Linked DNA regions of Homo sapiens: region 1 is linked to region 2. Evidence: fine-mapped expression QTL. A gene starts in region 2. The other region holds a variant in brackets. All regions are shown on one strand. Distances are from middle to middle. Region 1 has its middle 100 kb from the start of PTGER2. Region 2 holds the start of PTGER2 (prostaglandin E receptor 2).

The links. PIP is the estimated chance that this variant, and not a neighbour inherited with it, causes the effect. A credible set is the group of variants that fine-mapping cannot tell apart.
Region 1: its variant is the best candidate, but not a certain one, in a credible set for the expression of PTGER2 in fibroblasts (GTEx, PIP 0.57).

The regions. Positions count from the first base shown.
Region 1 is chr14:52,414,730-52,420,108 of GRCh38, reverse strand. No RefSeq gene overlaps it. Among named protein-coding and RNA genes, the nearest start is that of PTGER2, 100 kb to the right of the region's middle. The variant G/C (reference allele first, on the strand shown) is at 2,676.
Region 2 is chr14:52,311,305-52,316,648 of GRCh38, reverse strand. It overlaps PTGER2 (prostaglandin E receptor 2), which reads right to left and starts at 2,337. Exons shown (of 2, transcript NM_000956.4): 1 at 1,258-2,337. The coding sequence starts at 2,100. RefSeq lists enhancers at 1,443-1,582, 1,603-1,752, 1,987-2,546, 2,547-3,107 and a silencer at 2,273-2,382.

The DNA of each region.
Region 1 (5,379 bases), 100 kb before region 2:
AGGGAGAGGAAAGAGCCTGGGTGATGACATGGAGACCTCAAACAGCCTGGTGCATGCAGAAACAAGAGCACTAGTTCCATTTGGAGTGAAGAGTGTTTGAAGAAAAGACATGCAGGAGGCCAGAGAGGAACAGGAGCCAGATACAGCAAAGTGTTGTTGAACTAGTGAGCTTGAACTCTGAATTGTAGGTTATGATTTAGGGTTACAAGCCTATTCAGTTATTCCCCACCCATTCCCAAGAGTAAAAAAGTAAACTTCAAGTGTTTCTATTTTGATGAAAGAGGAGAATTAAACATCTATGATAGATTACCTTAAACACATGGTCTCCCTAAAATGATAATTATAATCATTTTAGAGTAAGAGTCCCTTTCTACCAGCCCCTTTGCTTGCATTAACATAAGTAGATTAAGCCCTCTGGGGGATTAAAAATTGTAGGTGAATGTTTTATCCTGGAAATTACAATGAATCAGATACTCTCTAGGGCCAAAGTCATTTCCTGAAATAATTTTTCCAGACTATTAGAGTACAGTTTATTCCCTGCAATATAAATTGCACAAAATGGGAACTGAGTTAGTAAACCTCCCTTAGCATCTCAATTACTATGGTTCCAGGAAACAACTTAGGTATGGGAAGGAGACAGACCAATACCAATATTTGCACATCCATTTCTTTTCTTTAGTTTGGCTTCAAAGTCTTCCAGTGTTTCTCTGGTTTCCTAGAAGACTGGGACTTTGAGAAGCAGATTCCCACAATAAAGTCTTAATGTAATTCAAGAAGTCAGAAAGAGTGAAATTATTTAGATGTTTGTTATTCTAAAGTCTTGTGAAAACATTTTGTCTTTCAGTTTTAAAACTCCTTTATGTGTTTTTAAAATTGTGTTCTGGTATACTCAGAGAGTTTATACTATGAGCATTTCAGAAGATAGTCAGTATTGATATGTTTATATCACATCCTGTGTGTGATGGTTGCTGCAGAAATGATTGATAATAAGTTTATTTTACTCTAAAGTTTACAAAAGTATTGATTCATACTACCTTGTATTATATTCAGTTTCCCATTTATAAAGCCCTTTCCTATACATTGTTTAGTTTTCACAATATCATTATAAAATAGACTCAGTATTTTACAAGCTAGGAACAAAACCAAGAGGTTGTGGCACATGGGGCTGGGCGCGGTGGCTCACACCTGTAATCCCAGCACTTTGGAGGGTCAAGGCAGAGGATTACTTGAGGTCTACTAAAAATACAAAATTTAGCTAGGCATGATGGCATGGGCCTGTAATCCCAGCCACTCAGGAGGCTGAGACAGGAGAATCACTTGAACTTGGGAGGCAGAGGTTGTAGTGAGCCGAGATCGCGCCACTGCACTCTAGCCTGTGTGACAGAGCAGGATTCCATCTCAAAATAAATGAATAAATAATAAATAAATACATAAATAAATAAATAAGTTACAGCACATAGGTCACAAACTAGAGTCTTCATTTGCATCATCTAGCAGAGCTTTTCATAAAAGAGACCCTTGTATTTTTTTGTGTGCTTCACTCTCCTCCCCTCCGCTACCCCCTCCAAGATTCTGCTTTAACAGTTAAAAAGCTGCCCAGATGATGCTGATAGTGAACCTGCTTGGGAACCCCTGGTTAAAGGGATTTTTCTGTCTTTCTTTCTTTCTTTTTTTTTTTGAGACAGAGTCTCACTCTGTCTCCCAGGCTGGAGTGCAGTAGTGCAATCTTGGCTCACTGCAACCTCCCCCTCCCAGTTTCTAGCAATTCTCCTGCCTCAGCCTCCTGAGTAGCTGAGATTACAGGTGCCCACCACCACGCCTGGCTAGTTTTTGTATTTTTAGTAGAGACGAGGTTTCACCATGTTGGCCAGGCTGGTCTCGAACTCCTGACCTCGTGATCCACCCGCCTCGGCCTCCCATAGTGCTGGGATTACAGGTGTGAGCCACCACGCCCAGCCAGTTAAGGAGATTTTTCTGAAGCTCTTAAGGAGTAGAATCAGAGCTTGAACCAGGCATGCAGACTGCAAGTCAAGGGTGTTTCCCATAGACCACAAGTTAGGTAGGAGCAGTTGATGGGAGGCGAGGGGTAGGGGTAGAGGGATGGATGTTGATGGAGGTGAATTAAAATCTTATGGCAATTTTCCTTTAAAAACAATTTTTTTTTAAAGTGAAGATGGAGTGACAGTCAAGATCAGAAATTTTCAGATTGGTAACATTTTATGGGATGTTGTTAGTATGGATGTTCATCATGTGAGTGTAATCTTTCTGTTTCTAGGCATGAAAAGCAGGAAATGCAGGAAAACAAGACAGAGGAAATGGTAGATCCATTTGTATCTTTTAAGGAGACATGGTGAAAAAAAATCCATGATAAGCTGTAAACCTGAAGATGAATCATGAAAAAATAATTGCCATGAAACTGTAGTAAATTCCCAGGTGTGTGGGGAAGAGAGACTCCATGTTTTAGAAGATAAATTACACTCAAGTCCCAAGAAGGAAGATCTGAGTGGTAGATGTTTCCATTTTTATATTACTAATGATGAAACTAAGGCTCAGAGAGGTAAAGGAGCTTGCCTAAGATGCTCTGAAAATATGTGGGAGAAACCACCAAACCATTATTATAATAAATGATCATAAATGATAAAATAAAGAAAAACCCATAAGAGAGGAAAATAAAC[G/C]CCAGGACACTGTGAAAGGCCTGGCAAATGCAACCTACAATCCATTTTGTGATATTGATGAACTATAACATCGATTTACCCTGTTTTTGTCACCAAAGGAAGCCACTGAGCCATGGTTATGAGATTTCTTCTTGGACATTTGAAAGTGAGATTTTCCAAATTCTTATTTTTCAGAAGTTGATGAATTTCAGCCCTAGGCAGGATTTTTATAAAACAAATTTAAGGGAGAATATATTTTAGATAATTTATTTGTGCTGCCATTTATCACCTGTTGGTTGAAGACTGGTGTTTTAGGTGATGCTGTTATAAGTAGTACTGCAAACACTTTCTGCTTTTAAGTGTGTACAGGTCTCAGAATCTGAATTACATGGTATAGTGCTTTTGTAAAGTGTATGTTTTCAATGGTATAAAGGACTTTTAAAGTTTATTTTGATATTTTAAATCATCAATCACCTGTATATAGAATTTGTTGTTTTTCACCTTTTCTACGTTGTTACAAATGTATCCCAGTCACTCGGCCATAGTTGTCTAGGTTTTCACAAAGGTGTTTCTTTTCTCCATGTCTTTTCCAAAAGACTTTCCAAGCTCTAGGATTCAAGGCAGACCTCTCATACCTCTTACATCTTACTTAAATCTGATTTGGGCTTCAGGGAAAACACTGAAGACACAACCAGTACCTGAAACATTTTTAGTCTTAGTGTTTTGATTTATCCTTGGTCACTTCCCCTAGCCTATGAAGGGAATTTCTGATTGAGTTCTGCATCTCTGATTTTTAAAATTTTGATCATAATTCATTTTTCCTGAGAAAGCATTTTTATATTTTAGGAGTATAAACCCAAGAATTCACAAAGGTATTTTTTCTTATAGGAATGCATGAGATGATTTGCCTTTCTAAAAGTAAATGTAAAACCTATAAACTATGTGATTATACTTTCCCAAGTTTCTAGGAATCAACCCAAGTGCAATTATTATAAACATGTAAGAAATCATGTCTACCATTGAAAATATAAAATTTAAAAATATATATTTGTTCATAACAGAACCTATAATCAGCAACTTCTTTGTTTTCCTTGTCTTACTGTTCCTTCTTGTAATTGTTGACAGACACGCATTTTAAAAAGAATGAAAGTTCAGTATTTGTGGGAAAGAATTTCAGAGTTATTTCTAGTAATTCCCTTGCTCCCTTAATGAGCCGGTATGAGATTTTTTTTAATGTGTAGAAGACTTTATTTTGTTAACACTTGCTCTAATCTAGCTTCATAAAGTGGAAGTTTTCTCTCTCCACTGATGCTATGGGAAATCTGAGAATTCAGGCCCTATCCATTGCTGTTGGTCCATCCCCCTGAAAATGATCTTTAGCTTTTGGTCTGCTAGAGAAAAATAATGATTTTTATGGCTCCAAAGTGTCCTTTTAAAATAGAGATTTTTTTGATATCTTTCAACTCACCTTTTATGTTTTCTGATAATAATAAAATAATCCTCTGAGTAAATGCCCTTTTATACAGATGTGTGACAAGTAGTTGAATGGACAGAACTTCTAGTTGAATAAATAATTTTGTACTTTTTTAAAATTAAGAATTACTTTTTTTTTTTTGAGACAGAGTCTGGCTCTGTGCCCAGGCTGGAGTGCAATGGTGCTATCTTGGCTCACTGCAACCTTGACCTCCCAGGTTCAAGCGATTCTCCTGCCTCAGCCTCCCGAGGAGCTGGGACTACAGGCACACGCCACCATGCCCAGCTAATTTTTTTTTTTTTTTTTGTATTTTTGGTAGAGACGGGGTTTCACCATTTTGGCTAGGATGGTTACTATCTCTTGACCTCATGATCCACCTGCCTCAGCCTCCCAAAGTGCATTACAGGCATGAGCCACTGCGCCTGGCCCAAGAATTACTTTTTAAATGAAAATCCACAGATTCTTGTTTTATATTTTTGGATTTTCAGATCTTGATATCTTTTCAAGAAAGGCATAGTCTTGATAAATAATATTCAAAAATATATTAACATAAATACTATGTATGTTCCTGTAATTTCAGAGCTTCACTATGTATGCCCATATATGTATATGTGTATATATGTGTGCCTGTGTGTGCGTGTGTTTCTGGTACAAATTGATTTAATAAACTATTTGAAGAAAAAACTATCCCTGATTACCTAAGTCAGATTTTATCATATGAAATTTAGCACATTGTGTAGTTTGTTCTATTCCGTGTGTTTCTGAATTGTTTTAGTTGTCATTAGTGCTCTCTGATAGTTACCAAAAAAAATAGTTGTAAATATTTGTAACATCAGGAATCTTGTTTCACCTTTGGTTTAATAGTCTAAAATTCTTTGATCCTGAATACAAAGAGAAGTCCCAGAACATTTAGGAAGGTTGATGGAAGGGTAATTGGAACCCAGGACTACATTCTATCTACACATGCACCTAGTAAGCTAGAGGCTGACTGCTGAAACTGCAGGTAGAGGTGGCTCTGTTAGAGGACCTGTGCTTGCTTATGCAGAGCTCCACTCCACAAATATCCTATATCTAAGGAGGGATTTTTTTACTTGGGGTCTGTAATACACATAGGTAAAGTGGAGTGTACATGAACATGTATGCATTCTTCTGGGGGTTAGACCCATTTTTCTTTTTTTTTTTCGGTGGTAGGGGGGGATTGGAGGGGGACGGAGTCTAGCTCTGTCACCCAGGCTGGAGTGCAATGGCATG
Region 2 (5,344 bases):
CACATGAAGATGTAAGAAGCAGTAATGGAGGCAGGAGATAGGATAAAGTTACTTCTCCTCCAGCTTTTACAGGTCAGACCTGTTAATAGTAGGCACTGCCCATCTCTTTTCTCCAAGATTGTGGCAGGTGGAAGTCACTATTAACTGCTTTGATGCTGCAGCATCAGTCTTGCTCTTCTGAAGATTAGGAAGTGGAGTTGCCACAACTCCCAATTCCTAGCCCCCGTAAGAGGCCAGCACATTCTCGGACATATTCCAGGCTCAGCTAAAACGTTACACTTGAGGAGACTTGAACTCACAGCCTCATATCATTTAGCAGTTAGTTAGCATCAAATAACTGCTAAAGTTGCCCCAAATCAAGGCAGCACGATGCCAGGACTTGGTCTCTTGTCCTTCAGTTCCCCAGGTAGCCCCACTCTTCCCTTCCTGAGAGGGACCAGCCATTCCTGCCTGTGGCTTTGTGCTCATCAAGTGCATAACTGTAAGCTGAAGGACACCTGTGTGTATTTCTGACAGTGACATTAAGAGCGTGTTTTGCAAGATATTACAAATGCTTAGCAAGATGTTCCTCCAAGTATTTCCTCTAGTTATCATTATGGTTTTATAAACTTTCATGGCCACAAAGAGTTACATTCAAATATATAAATTGGGAAACCTATAAACTAGATGTTTGTTGGACTTTTAGGACAAATAACAAATGCTCTAAACTTCTGCTTCAGGGACCCTTCTCATCTGGGACCATTTTCAATGGCAGCTGGAATGCTATGGGTTGGGTACTACATTTTGCCCTGGCAGGAACAGAAGGCAAGCATGGAGAACCAGCACCAGTGGATGAGAGGTACAGGGCAGCAAACTGCAGCTCCAGGTCGTCAGGCTGGAACAGTGACAGCCATCCTAAGGTGGAAGGGGCTGCCTCTTTCTCAATTACTAAGCCAAGATAGGCAACAGCGAGAAAGGGACACTGCCCAGGGCTAGGATGAGGAGATTGGCTAGCTTAGCTGAGGCCCAGGACTCCCTTTCGGACGGTCTGTATTATTGTATAAGAAACTCTAGCCTAGCAACGCCCATAAGCCAGGATAAGGAAGTGGGCTAAAGAGGAGGGGAAACTAGTGGGGAAGGCTACAGATCTTTACAAATTAGGACATATTTTTACAAGTTGCAAAAAGTTTGTAGGGCGGTGGAAAGGGTGGAGGCGTCAGGGGAGAGCATGAGAAGGCTGAGCAGAGCCGGGCTGTGGAAACGTAGGGAGTGACTTACCGTGAAAGGCAAGGAGCAGACGGCGAAGGTGATGGTCATGATAGCCAGGAGAATGAGGTGGTCCGTCTCCTCCGCCATGGACACCCTTTCCCCTCTCCTGCGGGCCCCGGGGCCGCCCCGGCCACTGCCCAGGGAAGGTCCGCAGCGGCTTCTCCGGCTTCGGCGGTGCATGCGGATGAGGTTGAGAATGACACTGAAGTTGCAGGCGAGCACCGAGACAATGAGAAGCAGCAGCAGGGTGGCGTACAGCTGCAGGTAAGCGGTCCGCCCGTGCCGGATGAAGCACCAGGTCCCGGGGCAGTACTGGACGTACTGCCCATAGTCCAGCAGCGGCAGCGAGCAGAAGAGCAGGGAGACTGCATAGATGACAGGCAGCACGGCCAGGCCCCCGGAGCGCGAGACGCGGCGCTGGTAGAAGTAGGGGTGCCCGATCGAGAGGTAGCGCTCCAGGGCCATGGCGAAGAGCATGAGCATCGTGGCCAGGCTGAAGAAGGTCATGGCGAAAGCGAAGTAGGTGCACGCGCGGCTCTCGGGCGCCAGTGCCACCAGGGTCTGGTTCCGCGCGTACGAAGCCAGTACCACTGGGCTGATGAGGCAGGTCCCGAGCAGGTCGGTGAACACCAGCTCGGTCACCAGCACGTGGAACAAGGAGAGGGAGCTCCTGCGGCCGGCGCTGCACCCCACGTCCCCCCGCCAGCGGCGCGCCAGCAGCGCCAGTGCTATGAGGTTCCCCAGCACCCCGGCCGAGAACATGACGGAGCTGATGGCTGGGCTTTCGCCTGGGGGAAGCCACTGTCGCGTCTCGCAGTCCTCAGACTGGGAGTCATTGGAGGCATTGCCCATGGTGGGGTGCCTGGAAAAGAGATGCGCCCTCCTCTCCCGGCCTTTACCTGGGAGGAAGAGGGTCTGAGAGCCGGAGCGTTCCGAGACTCAGAGGAAAAAGGGGAGGGACCGAAATCCAGAGCCCCCTTCCCGCACCCAGCGCGCCGACGGCGGCTTGCCCTGGGTCTCCCGCCGCGCGCCGAGTGGCGGCTCGGCTGCTGCATCCGAGCGGCGCTCGAGGCTCCCGCGCCTACCCGCGCCGGCCAAGGCCGGGAGCCAGAGCCTAGGGGAGCCGTCGTCTCCGCCCCCGCACTGTCGGGGGGCGGGCCCAAGAGTGCTGGCCAGGCCTTGCAAGTGCGAGTGTCCGCGAGCTGCAGGGGAGGCAGGACGCGTCACACTCGCGGGGGCGTTCCGAGTCCCTGGGGCGCGCCGGCGGGGAGGGAGAGAAGGAGTCTGAGCACCCGCTGGGCGCGGCACTGGGCAGAGGCGCGCGTGTTGCCGGTGTACTGAAGCTGCCCGCGACCGGCGGGAGCGGCGTTTCTCGCTTCCTCGGGGTCCGGTACTCGAAGCGCACGGCAGTCTGACCTCGGCTGGGAAGCGTTAAGCCCCAGCAGAGGGCTGGGAGGGAGTGCAGGAGCACTTGCGGGGTCTGCGCAGAATACACAGAAGATCGGGGCAACGAGCAAAGCAAAGCAACTCACCAAACAATGAAGTTAGGAGAACCCAATCCCGTGAAATGAGCGGAACAAGGGAATAACAGTGCAAAGGCAGCTTGAAGTAAGACCAGAATGTTTTGCTTTGTTTTTACTATTCCCAGGAAGATACACTAAGAGGTTGGGACAAAAATTGGGATGAAGCGTAAAGCAAGTGTGTCCATCCAAGGAACCAAACCACACAATGCGCACCACCGAGCGGCCTGTTGCACTGCCGCTTTGATTCGGTTACTAGCATTTCACCGTTTCCTATGTCAACAGCATAACGGATAACCACTTGTTTAAGCAACCATTAAAAAAAGAGGAGTGTGTCTTATACAGAATTGTGTTTGTGGATACAACATGAAAACCATTGCACATCACTGTTCTGTCCTTAAGCTGAGCCTTGTAAGAAAATGTTGATATTTTGTTTAGCCGTTTATCTTTACATGTTGTTAACCACGTAGTATCCATCCAGAAAGACTTGTTCCTGGCAAAGTGTATTGGTAAGTGGCCAGTTTCAGACTGGAGCTGACAGTAATGGTTTCCTACCACATATTGTCATAATTGCAGAGTCGTGAAAATGGGCTGATATTTAACACAAAACAAAACAAAACAAAATCCAGTTTGGCAGACAACATAGGTAATTGTGTTCTGTAAGAAGTCACATTCACTTGGGGAAGGGAGGCCAACTGGGAAGTGAAGGGTCTGATCTGCCTAGGGAACTGGCAAGAAAGACAGTCATAACGTGGGAGGAAGCAAAGATTGCCTGCTGAAGAGCCTATCTTGCTACAGCCTGCTTACTCTCCATGAATATTTTTTGCCAACTTTGATGATTCTGGCCTGGGGATTGGAATGCGGAGTTGGGGGGGGTGGTTCCCACTAGAACAAGCATAATTTACTGGATCGCTTGCAAAGTTTACAGGCCGGTTTTCACATGTCAGCAGGCACTACTTCAATCCCTAAACTTCTCATGGCATGGATTCCTAGGAAAGAGGATCTTAACTCCTACAGTTTTTCTTTCAAGCTGTAAACTCTGCAGGTCAGTAACAACTTATTACCAATCTTTGCCATCCATCTCTGACTATTCCCCTACTCCAACATTCCCCCATCTCACCCCAAGCAATGGGGAAACATCAAACTTAAATCAGAAGTATTTCTTAATAGGAAAACACTATGATTTATAGCATAATTCTGCACTGCAGTTTTACTATTAAATAAGGGATTTTAGATTCACTGAATTTGCACAGTGCTTATTTTCCGAATATTTTTATACCTTTTTAATTTTCATAAGGCCCCTCACAACAAAAACCTACTATTTAACCTTTCCTATATATTTGTCTCTAGCTTTTCTTTGGATGGGTACCTGGTGGCAGGCCGGCCCCTGGTTTTTGTGAATACGAGAGCAAGAGTGCAGTTGAAGATCCTCCCCCAGGCCCCTGCCCCCTTGTCTTCCTAACCCCTGACTCAGTCTTGCACCACAAGGAGTCTTGCACAGAAATATGTGGAGAGTATAGTTCAATATGTGGACAGTATAGTTCAATATGTGGACACTATAGTTGTTGATAACCAAGCTCTCTCCCCAAAGCCACCTTGGTCCTGGGAATATGCATCTCAAACATGCAAATGACCCTTGATTGGATGGACCTAGGGAAGATGCCTGATCAAGCCCTGGAAGCGAGTTATGGGACCAACATTTGAGCAGGAAATTTCATGATCTCAGGTACCTGGAAGGTGGTCTAGAATGGAGGGGTAATGGGGTCTGGGTGAATAGTGCCCTGAGGGTGTCTCACCTGTGGTAAGGTATGTGACAAGAGGAAGACTAGAGTGGGCCCTATAAATCTTGGGAGGCCAGTATCCTATTAATTACTGTGCTGCTCAGCATTGCTTGTTCAAATTACTCCTTTTAATTGCTTCCAGCATTTGGACAGAATACATACATATGTGTGTGTGTGTGTGTGTGTGTGTGTGTGTGTGTGTTTGGTTTAGCAGTTTGCTGTGTTCCCTGTTGCTAGATTGCTGAGTAGGAGAGTTGATAAGTTTGCTGTCGCTACGTAGCAACTGGACCATCACGTTTGTTCCTTTAAGTGCAAGTCTAATCTTGCTTGTCAGTTACCCCCAGTTAATTTTGTGGTTTAAAAGCTACTTCTTCCCATTTCTAATTTTAGTGTCAGCATTTTGATACAGTTTCAGTTTACATAGAGCCTAGAGTTCCTTAACAGAAAACAGATTAACACCCTCAATTCTAGAATTGAGCCATAGAGCTTTGCTAATTGTTTAGTTCCTGTTTGTGGGGCCATTGTATGTGGGGAACACTATGTGATGGTTAATTTTATGTGTCGACTTGACTAGGCCATGGGATGCCCAGGTAGCTGGTTAAACATGATGGCGGGGTATGTCTGTGAAAGTGTTTCTGGAGGAGATTAGTGTTTGAGTTGATGGACTGAGTAAAGCACATGCCCTTCTCAGTGTTGGTGGGCTTCATGCAATCCATTAGGGCTTGAATAGACTAAAAAAGTAGGGGAAGGTGAAATTCACTCTCTGCCTCACTGCATGAGTGGGGACATTGATCT